2 separate regions of the Homo sapiens genome follow, and region 2 is linked to region 1. The links come from fine-mapping of genetic effects on gene expression. Tissue or cell type: tibial artery. Region 1 holds a variant in brackets; the other region holds the start of a gene. All regions are shown on one strand. Distances are between the middles of the regions.

What was found. PIP is the estimated chance that this variant, and not a neighbour inherited with it, causes the effect.
Region 2: it holds the start of CXCL14, and the variant in region 1 is the best candidate, but not a certain one, in a credible set for the expression of CXCL14 in tibial artery (GTEx, PIP 0.65).

Annotation. Positions count from the first base shown.
Region 1 is chr5:135,686,269-135,691,415 of GRCh38, forward strand. It overlaps a transcript of SLC25A48 not described here. Among named protein-coding and RNA genes, the nearest start is that of SLC25A48-AS1, 35 kb to the left of the region's middle. The variant T/A (reference allele first, on the strand shown) is at 2,320.
Region 2 is chr5:135,576,063-135,581,209 of GRCh38, forward strand. CXCL14 (C-X-C motif chemokine ligand 14) reads right to left here and starts at 2,929. Exons shown (of 4, transcript NM_004887.5): 1 at 2,653-2,929; 2 at 2,372-2,477. The coding sequence starts at 2,716. It also overlaps a transcript of SLC25A48 not described here.

The DNA of each region.
Region 1 (5,147 bases):
TATTTCTGTGGGTTGTAGAGAGGATTAAATTATGTCCAAACTGCTAGGCGTGGCTCACAAGGCCCTCAGAAGTGAGCTCCTCTTTGTCCCTCAGCTCTCTGACCCCTACCTTGTTGTTTGCACTCCAGCCACACTAAGTCTCTTCCAGTTCCTTGGATAACTGTACTTGGGCTAATGCCCATTTATCTCGCATGTCTCAGGGTAGTCTCCTCAGTGAAGCCTTCTCTGACTCCGCTGCTCCCCGTATGGTGGAGCCTTCCATGCTACACCCTGGCACACTATAGTACTTCATGCTTCTCATTTGCTGTGAACCTGTCTCCGCAGACCGAACATGCCATGAGGGCAGGGGCACTGCGTCTCTCCCCTGGGCTCAGTCCAGAACCTCATATTTAGCAGGCACCAGTGAAGTTTTACTGGACGACAGATGGATGGTTGGATGGACAGCTAGATAGAAGAATGAATGAATGGAAAAAGGGAAGGAAGGATGGGAAGGGATGGATAGATAGAGGGAATGAAAGGATAGACAGATATAAGTATGGAAGTATGGGTGGATGGAAGGATGAATAGATGAACTGATGGATAGACAAGGTGTTTAGGTTATCATCTGACATTCTGGGAAGAGCTTCATTTATTTCTGAAGGCTATGACTTGCTAACTTCAAAGAAAGGGAAAGGGTTGTTTTTTTTTTTTCCACAGAGAAGCAGAATCCTGATATGAACAACCTAATGCCCTCTCAGCACAACCCAGACCATGACAATTTTTAAAACAATCCATTAAGTGGCTTATTGGCTTGACTCATCCAGGATTTTCATGCCCAAAGATCATGAAGTTGTGCGCTCTTCTGTGTCTTGATGTCTTCACTCTGAGTGGGAACCAGGGAGACTGAAAGAATTCTGACATTAAGGAATCTTATTTACTCTGACATTAAAGAATCTTATTTACTCTTCAAAAAGGTTACCTACAGATTGGGTGAGAAGGTGAGCACTTTACCACCTATATATTTGGAAAATCATTAGGTAATTTTTGGAAAAGTCAGTCATAATGTATCAGAAGCTTAATCCTCTATGATTTTACAATGGCACTTAGAATTACAGTATTTATACATGCAAAATGCTCCATTTATCTGCCAAGAAACATGGTGATCCAGACAAATCAGATTTCTGTGTAACTGAGATTTCTGTGTAACTGAGGCTTGATATTTAAATATTCATTTTATTTTTCTAACACTATTGTTATGACTCAAAGCATTTTTGAAATCTTTTATAATTTCCTTTATGTCAATTCAGGTCAAGTCTTTTTTTTAATGTTGCTGTTTTAATAAAGATATCTTCCCTTTCCTCCTTAGTAAATAGCACCTTAGACACAAGTCACAATTTCATAAAGACTTAGAGTTATCTTTGTAAACAGACATTGTTTTCCTGGATTCTTGTATTTGGTAATGTTCTCAGGGCTCTTGCAGAGTGAAATGGATGCTGACTGTTCTGTTTTTACTAACAATTCTTCTCCTCTCCATGTTTATTGCATGGCTTTACTTTTGTCTGTTTTTGTCCTGAGTGTGGCTTATTGCATATGGGCTTTCTGATAACTACTTACTTTTCTGGGGTCTTTTTTCCCAATTATTTTTAAATTGTGGTAAAATGCACATAATATAAAACCATATTAACCATTTTAAGTGTACAGCTCAGTGGTATTAAATACTTGACACTCATTAATGTTGTACAGCCATCTCCCCCATCCATCTTCAGAACTCATTCATCTTGTAATTCACCCCTTCCCCAGCCCCAGCAACCGCCAAGTCTAGTTTCTGTCTGTGTGATTTTCACTACTCTAAGTACCTCACACAAGTGCAATCATACCGTATTTGTCTTTTTGTGAATGGCTTATTTCACTTGGTATTATGCCCATAAGATTCATCCAAGTCATAGCCTGTCAGGAGTTCTTCCCTTTTTAAGGCTGAATAATATTCCGTCATATGTCTATATCACATTTTGCTTATCCATTCATCCACCAATGGATATTTGGATTGCTTCCATGTTTCTCTCAGGCTTTTTTTTTTAACAGCCTCTGTGGATACAGTTGAATAGTTGACTTTATTGGTGTTCTGATCTCTAGATAATCCAGATATTCCTGTAAGAGATTTTGACTTAGGATCCAAAGTGCTCCTTGTGTTTCACTGCATGAATGTCTATGAAGAAGTTCAGCAACACTGAAGAAGTCATAGAATGATTTATTGCAGCTTAAACACACACACACACCATGGAAAGAAATTGCAAAATAACTTATTCCATGAGGGAACATTGCTATCCAGGGAATATTGAT[T/A]TGAGCATTCACATTCCCTGTAAACATGCTGAAAAAACAAAGGCTAAAACGCCAACACTCTGTGAAAAGCCAACATTCATCCCATGCAATGGGATTCAGTGGAAAAGCAGGCCCTGAAGGCTGGGTTGGGCATGAGTTCATCGAGATGCAATTCTAGCTGCCACTGGTGCAGAGGAGAGTGGTAAATTGTACAATGGAGAGATGCTTTCACCAGCAGCTGCCCCCACTCCAGCCTGGCTGAACCCTCACTGGGAGTCAATGTCAATGGGAGCCAATGGGACCATGTCCAACCATATAATCAAATAATAATAATAATAGCTATCATTCTTTGAATGCTTACTGTGTTTCAACTCTTCACATATGTTTCTGAGTGCATCCTCACAACAGTCTTATAAGACAATATTATTATTTCTGCCTTACAGATGAGGTAACTAAGACTTAGATAGATTAATTAATAAGATCAAGGCTACATAGCTAGTAAGTTTGTCTAGCTTCCGAGTCTGTGAGCCTAACCACTATGCTTTGCTGCTTCTGATCATTGGTTTGCATGAAATCAATGAGATAAGCCAAATACTCTCCTGATGGCCTTTGGCAGCAAGGAACTGGGTGCCTCAGACCCTCTTGGACCTATCAGTCCCTTCTGTTTCATAGGGAGGCCTCATCCAAGTCTTAAGAGGGAATCTACAGGCACAGGCACTCTCTTAACTGTAATCCCTGAGAACTGGAGCACCTGTTGTGATTCTCCATACAATAGACCCTCCTTCTACAGCCCATGGTTTTGGGGAAGGAATCAGATAATTGGTCAATTGAGGTTTGTGTTCAATATGGATCATCCCAAGTGAGGCAGCACCGGCACCTGGTGACAGCATACATACATTGTTGAATAAGTGTCTAAAGTAAAAGAAAGGGCCTTGAGAGCTGAAGAGCTGGATGTGCAAGTTCAAATGCTATATCACAGAGTCCTACAGTAATAGAGGTGCCTTTTCAAAGATCTATTTTGTGCATTCATGCATTTGGATCTACACAGATTGAGGATTGCAGGTGGTTCTTGCTTAGAAACCTGAAGGTCCTAAAACTCCATTGTGCCGACTCATTTCCTTGTTGGTAAAAGAGGAGAGATGAGCTTGAAAGTGCCTGTCTCTGTAACGCTGAATTGTGCAAGACATTTCCCGAAAATAGCTTACAAGAGCAACCCAGCTATGCTGTTAGAGGAAAAGTGATCTTCCCATCATGGAAATGAAGATACGATTTTATTCAAATTGGCAAATATGAACCCACTCCCATTCTATTCCAGGTTATTTTATACAAAAATGCTTTAAGACATAGTTGCTGTCCTTGAGGAGTTTGTGTCTGCCTGGGGACTTGGGGACGAGGACTGGGTAAGGAGAGGAGCAAGGGGCGCTGAGGAAAGAGCACTTATTTGGGTCAGCCAGACATGTACATTCGAACTAGGGTGACCCACTGCCTCGGTTTGCTTGGGGCTGGGGGGTTTCCTAGGATGCAAGACTTTCAGTGCTAAAACCAGGATGGTTCCAGACAAACCAAGACAAGTTGGTCACCCCAAAAATTAGTAAACCTCCCTATGCCTCCGTCTTCTTATCTGCAAAATGGAGATAACAACAAATTCTTCAAGTTCATGTATGGGAGAAGTGAATGTGGGAAGACTCATAATGCATGTGGCATTGGGAGCATGGGTGTAGGAATCCTTTAATATATTATGGAGGGATGAAAATCACATAGAGCAGTGGAATGTTCAGGAAAGAACAAAGCCAGCATAAGCCAAAGAGAACTGGGGAAGGCTGCATGAAGGTAAGCGTGCTCCAGAGGGGCCTTGAAGAACTAACAAGGCTGGGTCTGAGATTGTATGAGGAGATTTGATTATCTTGGAGTAAAACATGAGTGATTCTAGAAATAACTTCTTCCCTGCTACAAGCCACTTGTGTTTTGCAGGGTTTAGCTACTGCTCTGCTATGATTTGCAGCCCCCACCTGTCCCTGCTTTTCCTTGGGATTCTCTTATGCTGTGCCATCAGCTGAGCCCTCCCTTCCCAAAACACCTGCTCATTAACAGGCCACCCGCCCCTCCCCATGAGAGGTGTCTGGTGAGCCAGGATTAGGGAAACTTAAGCTCAGAGAGGTTGAGTGACTTGCCAAGAATCACCCAGCAGATCAATTTTGAATCCAGAAACAGGAACCAGATGTCCACACCTTACTCTGTGCTGGCTTTGGAAGGCGGAGTGTGGGGCCCAAGAGGCCCCAACAGAAAGGGTGAGCTCCTCTGGGAGAGACCAAGAATTCCAAAGCTGTCCTGTAATTCATGGTCAGAATTTCTCCCAAAGTGTGTCTTCAGGGAAGGCATTTTTTTTTTTTAATAAAAATCAGCTTTGAGGATCCCCAACTGAGTTTGGAAGTTTTACATATGAATTTCTGACTTGTCGTTTAAGAAAAGATGCCACGAGTGAAATCAATGAATTAAGGATTTGGCATAAGCTGTATCAAGTATCAAGTAATGAGCTTTCCGTTTCCCGTCACACATTCAGCGCTTCTCGATTCAGCCCAAATTGGCAAGAATCAAGCTGGTTATTAAAGCAAAACCTGGAAAAGGCAATTAAGCACTCCCAGGGTTAAAAGGTTGGATCCAGTGGAAACAAGAGTCATAAATTTTACTCACAGATAGACCTGCTATTCAGAGGCTGTGGCTTTCAAACACAGACACATATGAGGAGGAGGGCTTCTTGCTCAGAGCTGGGTGATAAAAAGCACGGGTTGTATGGGAGTCCTTCCTGGGAACCCAGTCCCGTGCTCTGCCCTGCTTCAGCAGGAGGAGGG
Region 2 (5,147 bases), 110 kb before region 1:
TCCTAGGCAACCTGTTCTCTTCCCTTCTCCGTGCTCTGGGTTTCTGGGGTCCCTGCTAGGGCCTAAGCTCCTTGGGGCAGGGGCGGGTCTTCCTGCTGATGCCAGGTGATGGTGCCTGCCTTGACTGGACTCCTCTGTGACTCCGGGTCATTCCTCTAGCCTTGAGCACAGGCCAGGCTTCAGAGTGAACTCTGGTTGTCTCTCTCCCCCACTGTGCCCAGTCACCCTGCAGGAATTTAGCAAATGCTTTTCTCTTTCTGCCTACAAGGCTGCTTTAGCATTCTGAAGGAAAGGACGTGGTAATGCCTGATAAAAACCCTTTCTCAGTTAGGTCAGTGTGCAGGCTGTGCATCCCAAATCCTGAAGGTCAGGGAGAGCAGGAAGGGAGAGCAGGAAGGGTCACTCAGCCCTCTCACTACAGTGCTCAAATGCCACGTCATAATACTGGGATTATGAAAATCGGTTGTGGAGTGCAGACATAGGGATTTGTGACTCCAGCAACTATCAGAAATTCTGAGTCCTGTGACCCTCTCCTCCACAGTTCTGGCGGTGGGGGTAAGGGTTTTGGTGAGAGCTCCATGGACCTATGACACAAATTGCTCTTTCTAGAATTCGGACTCTCCTGGATCCTTCTGGGTGCAAGGACTCCCACTTGCAAAGCGGACCTCTCCCCCCGCCCCTACTCCTGCCCCCACCCCCAGCCTCAGCAGAGATTTCTGGGTGACTCAGGGTAAGCTGGAAAATTTGCTTTTGTTCAGCCTTTGTGGCTGAAAACCTGCTTTGCAAAAGTGCTGGCCCCTCATCTGATTTGGAGAGTTTTAGGATTGTGGAGGGGGAGAGGAGCCCCCAGCCCTCAGGGATGGAGTGGGAGGCCCTAGGGGGTGGGTTAGAGGTTTAGTAGAGGGTGATTGGATTGTGTGCTGATCTCCTGAGGCCCCTGCACGTTTCTACAAGGCTCCGTAAAGCCTTTCTCACACTTGCCTAGCTATAGTTTTTCTCTATATGTGGAAAAGTTTAGCCAGGAAAAGAGCAAGCCTATTTACTGAGGGCTCTGTCCTTTTTAGGTATCACTGCATCCTTTACCCTGCTTTCTTCCCCTGCAAGGTCTCAGAAACTTGTTTGGTTAATAGAGTGGTTTTCAGCTCTTAGACGAGTGAGATTTAACTTGGAATTCCCCTGTCATTCTTAGCCCCCAAACTGGAAGCCCTGAGGAGCTTGGAGCTCCTTTCCCAGCTCATTTGACACTTGGCCCCCACCCAAAAGGATTTTTGGGTATTTTCTTTGAATTTGGTCTGCAAGGCAAGGGGTAGGGACAAGCAAGTTAATTTAGGTGTCTGTGAAGGAAGGCAGTGGGGTCAGCTCAGTTCCAGTGGATTTCTGAATTCCCCTAATTTCAGCCTGACAGTGTAGCCCCTAGACGGGGATGGGGGGTGCTGGGTAGGGGTGTGCACTGCTTTCGCAGACACTGTGAAGGCCTTTGCGCCGGTGGGGGCCAGCTGGTGGAGGGCACTTGCCCAGACTGAGAATAAAGTGCGTCCTGTTTCTGGGGGAGGGGAAGAGGGGCCAATGGTCTGTGGCAAATATTTGGTAGCCGCTTTGCCAAGGGCTCCCTTCCTGGCCAAGAGCATATTGATGAGGAGGCAGCGGTGCTGGCCTCAAGTGGTTAATTGGGAAGGCGGAGGAGCAAGAAACTAAGTGTTCTCTCACTCTGCCCCAGTTTTTCCAACATTCCCCACATCCCCACCAAGCAGGGCTCCAGCCATGTGGCACATTAACCCCAGCAGAGCACTTTCTGCAGTACTGCTCCGTATTGGGGACCCACAAGGAGTACAGTCGGTGAGGGAAGCTCGTGGAGCGTTCTCAAAATAAAATCTCTAGGAGCCAAAAACTTGCGGTCCACTTGTCTCTGACTGGAACAAGGCTCTGAAGGAGACTCAGGATTTAAGATAGTGTTTGCATTAGTCCTCTATCCAGTGACAGGAAGGCAGCACGCCTCACAGTTTGGGTGTGAGTGTGTTTTAAGTGATTTCAGTCTAGGTTTTCTGAGTTGGCACAAGGGAACCCTTTAACCCTTGATGGCCCTAGCAGAGTGGGTGGCCCATGGTACAAATAGGGAGACTGCTCATTTGAATCCTAGCAAGGGTGAACTTGGAGGCGCTGTTCCGGAGCGGGACAGTGACCCCCCTTCCCGACTGTCTTCCAGAGTGTCTCGCCAGCGTCCTAAGGACTCTCTGGGCAATTACAAAGGCTTTTCCAGGGCCTTGACAAAGTCGGAGAGAAATGTTTGTTAGCCCGACCCAGGCCCAGGCTGTGCCCTGGCATTGGGTTGACAGCAGTGCGCACCCCCTCAAGGTGAGGAGCGAGAACTCACATAACCATCTTCTCCTCGCAGTGCGGGTACTTTGGCTTCATTTCCAGCTTCTTCACGTCGCTGTAGCGGATCTTGGGTCCCTTCCGGGAGCACTTGCATTTGGACCCTGCGAGCGAGCGCGGGGCAACGGCTTAGTTGCTAGGCGGTCTCCTGCCCCTCGACCACCTTGGTGCCCACCCAGACCACCCCCCGCGGGATCCCAGGATGCCTAGAAATTGGCGCTTGGGTTCCCCAGGACAGGACAAGACGAGACGGCGACAAGGGGAGCTCCCCGCACTCACCGTCCACACGCGCGGTGTACAGCGCCAGCAGCAGCAGGAGCAGCGCGGCCGCCAGGAGCCTCATGCTGACCGGAGGGGCGCGGCGTGGGAGCAGGGACATGGGGAGGGCGCTGGCCCGTCGGAGCGGCGGCCCGGAGACGCCACCCAGCTCTGCTCGGCTTTCTCTGCCCGGGGCGCGCCTTCCGGCTCTGCTGGCTCCGGCTGCGCCGTCGGTGGATGCCCAGGGCTGTCTGTGGCCGTGCGCTGCGCTCTGCGCTTGTCTCCGCGCTCTCTCCACAGCCTCCCTCCGCCCGCCCTGGCCTCTTTTAAATCCGCTCCTGCCCTCGCAGCGAGCGAGCTCATTAATATGCAGAACCACTCGGTGACTCACTGAGATTTCTCAATGTGGTGAGGGGAGGAGACCTTCCCAGCCCGCCCGTCGCCCGCCCCGGGAAAGGACCCGCTATCGCAGCGGCGCACACCCGGAGCCACGCGCGCACACGCACACACACATCCGCTACCCTCTCGCTCACACAACACGCCGCCTTCGCACACTTGCACACCCATACCACAGCGCGCACACATTTCCAGCGTCCCGCTCTGCCTTTGGGGAGCCCAGACGGTGGAGAGGCTGCTGAAGGGCACTGCTTTTCTGAATCGTGTGGTTCTCTCTCTGGCCCGGCAGGCCAGCTTTTCCGAGCCGGCGGGAGACCCAGGCCCAGGGCTCAGATCCTCAAAGACCTGAAAGGGTTTTGGAGCAGGTGCCAAGTGTGAGTGCCTGCAGGCCTGACCCCCAAGGGCCCCTGCTGGGCCAGAACACAAGGCCAGTTCTGGACAGGGGCTTGTCATAGACTGTCCAGCAGCAAAGTCATTGACTGTGATCACTGGAACTGACTCAAAGAGGGTATGTGTGTGTATGCGGGGGTGGGGACGGGTATTGGGGAGGAGTTTTGGTGACTCCCAAAGGAAAGCTCCTTAAAGTGGGTCAGTGGCCTGGTGGCTGTGTGAGTGTCTGGGTGGTGGGGAGAACCAGGAGGAGTCCTCACTCTCACACTACTCTCCAAAGCCAGGTAGAGAGCCCTAGTGGAGAGCGATGACAGTGGTAACCATCTGGATGAAGGCCTTCCCATGTTCTAGACATTGTGCCAGAATGCGAGGTATAGTGGTGTGAGCCCAGCCATAGTGGCAGAAATTCCCTCCTCACTACTTTCCAGCACAAGTGACTTTACCGCTCTCAGCTTTTGTTTCATCATCTGTAAAGTGCAGATCATCACAGTGTTTCTGATAGGGTGGCTGTGAGAACTATAGAAATCATACATGTTGTCAGTACCCAGGAAATGTTACTTATTGGCACCATCGTTTTATGTCTAATTTATCTATTACTTTGATTCTTACCAATTGGTACTTTTCTTCCAAGTTGGTACTTTTAATTTCTTTATTTGACAGGTGTGGAAACATGCTCTGAGAGAAGAAATAACTTGTCCAAGGTCACAGAGCTAGGAAGCAGGTGACTAGGCCAGGAGGGTCCTCAGTATATACGGCTGCAGAACTGGGACTCCTGTCCCTGGACCACTCTGTTGCTTTGAGGCCTGTCTGCCCTTCACTTCTTGCTGCCTTGAGAGACCCAGAGACAGGAGGTGGATCATCTCAAGCTCTTGGAGTCCCTGGGCTTGGCTGTCAGGAGAGAGCTCACCCAGCTCTATGCCATCAGCCTGGCAGTTCCCTGGAGGCAAAAATGCCCAGAGGGCTTCTGGATGATGGGGACAGTCTGCTGAAGGGTGCAATGGGAAGAATCTGTGTCGTCTCTTCCCAACTGGAGAGCCCTTGCTGCTTCAAGAAGAAGCTGAGCCATGAAAAGCAAGCAGCGCCTATGCGTGCTGTTGTGCCTATACCTAAAGCAAAGCCAATAGCTGGACATTTGCATTTATGCATGAGATGAGTATGAGGGAGTGACTTTTGGCATTTATGTTAGTTTTTAACTCTAAAAATAATTTTTTAAAATATAGAAACAACACGTTTGCCCAGAAAAATCAGAAAACCCAAGCAGAAGAAAACTAACATTTTCACGCAAGTAAAATCTTGGGTGAAATCTTCCCAAAGCATCCTCTTTTTGCTTTGTGTGCACATGTACACATGGGATCAGGCTGCATGTAGTCTTTAATAACCTGCTTGCTATACCTATTAGCATATTGTGAACATCGCTCCATGTGGCTAGCCTTGCTACAACAATAGCTCCCTTAATGGTTTCATCTGAGGCCGGGTAGTATAATGGCTAAGAGGCTGGTGTCTGGAGTCAAATTGCCTGAGTATGCATCCTAGGGACTAGCTGTGTGACTTTGGGCAAATACCTTAACTCTATTTGGTATTGGTTTCCTCATCTGTGAGATGGAGATGATAATAATATGTACAGCATAGGCAGAATTAAATGAGATAGTGCATGTAATGCTTTTAATGTGGTCCCCAACACAGAGTAAGTGTTTGATATGTGCTGACCATTGCGGTTATCATGATTTTAG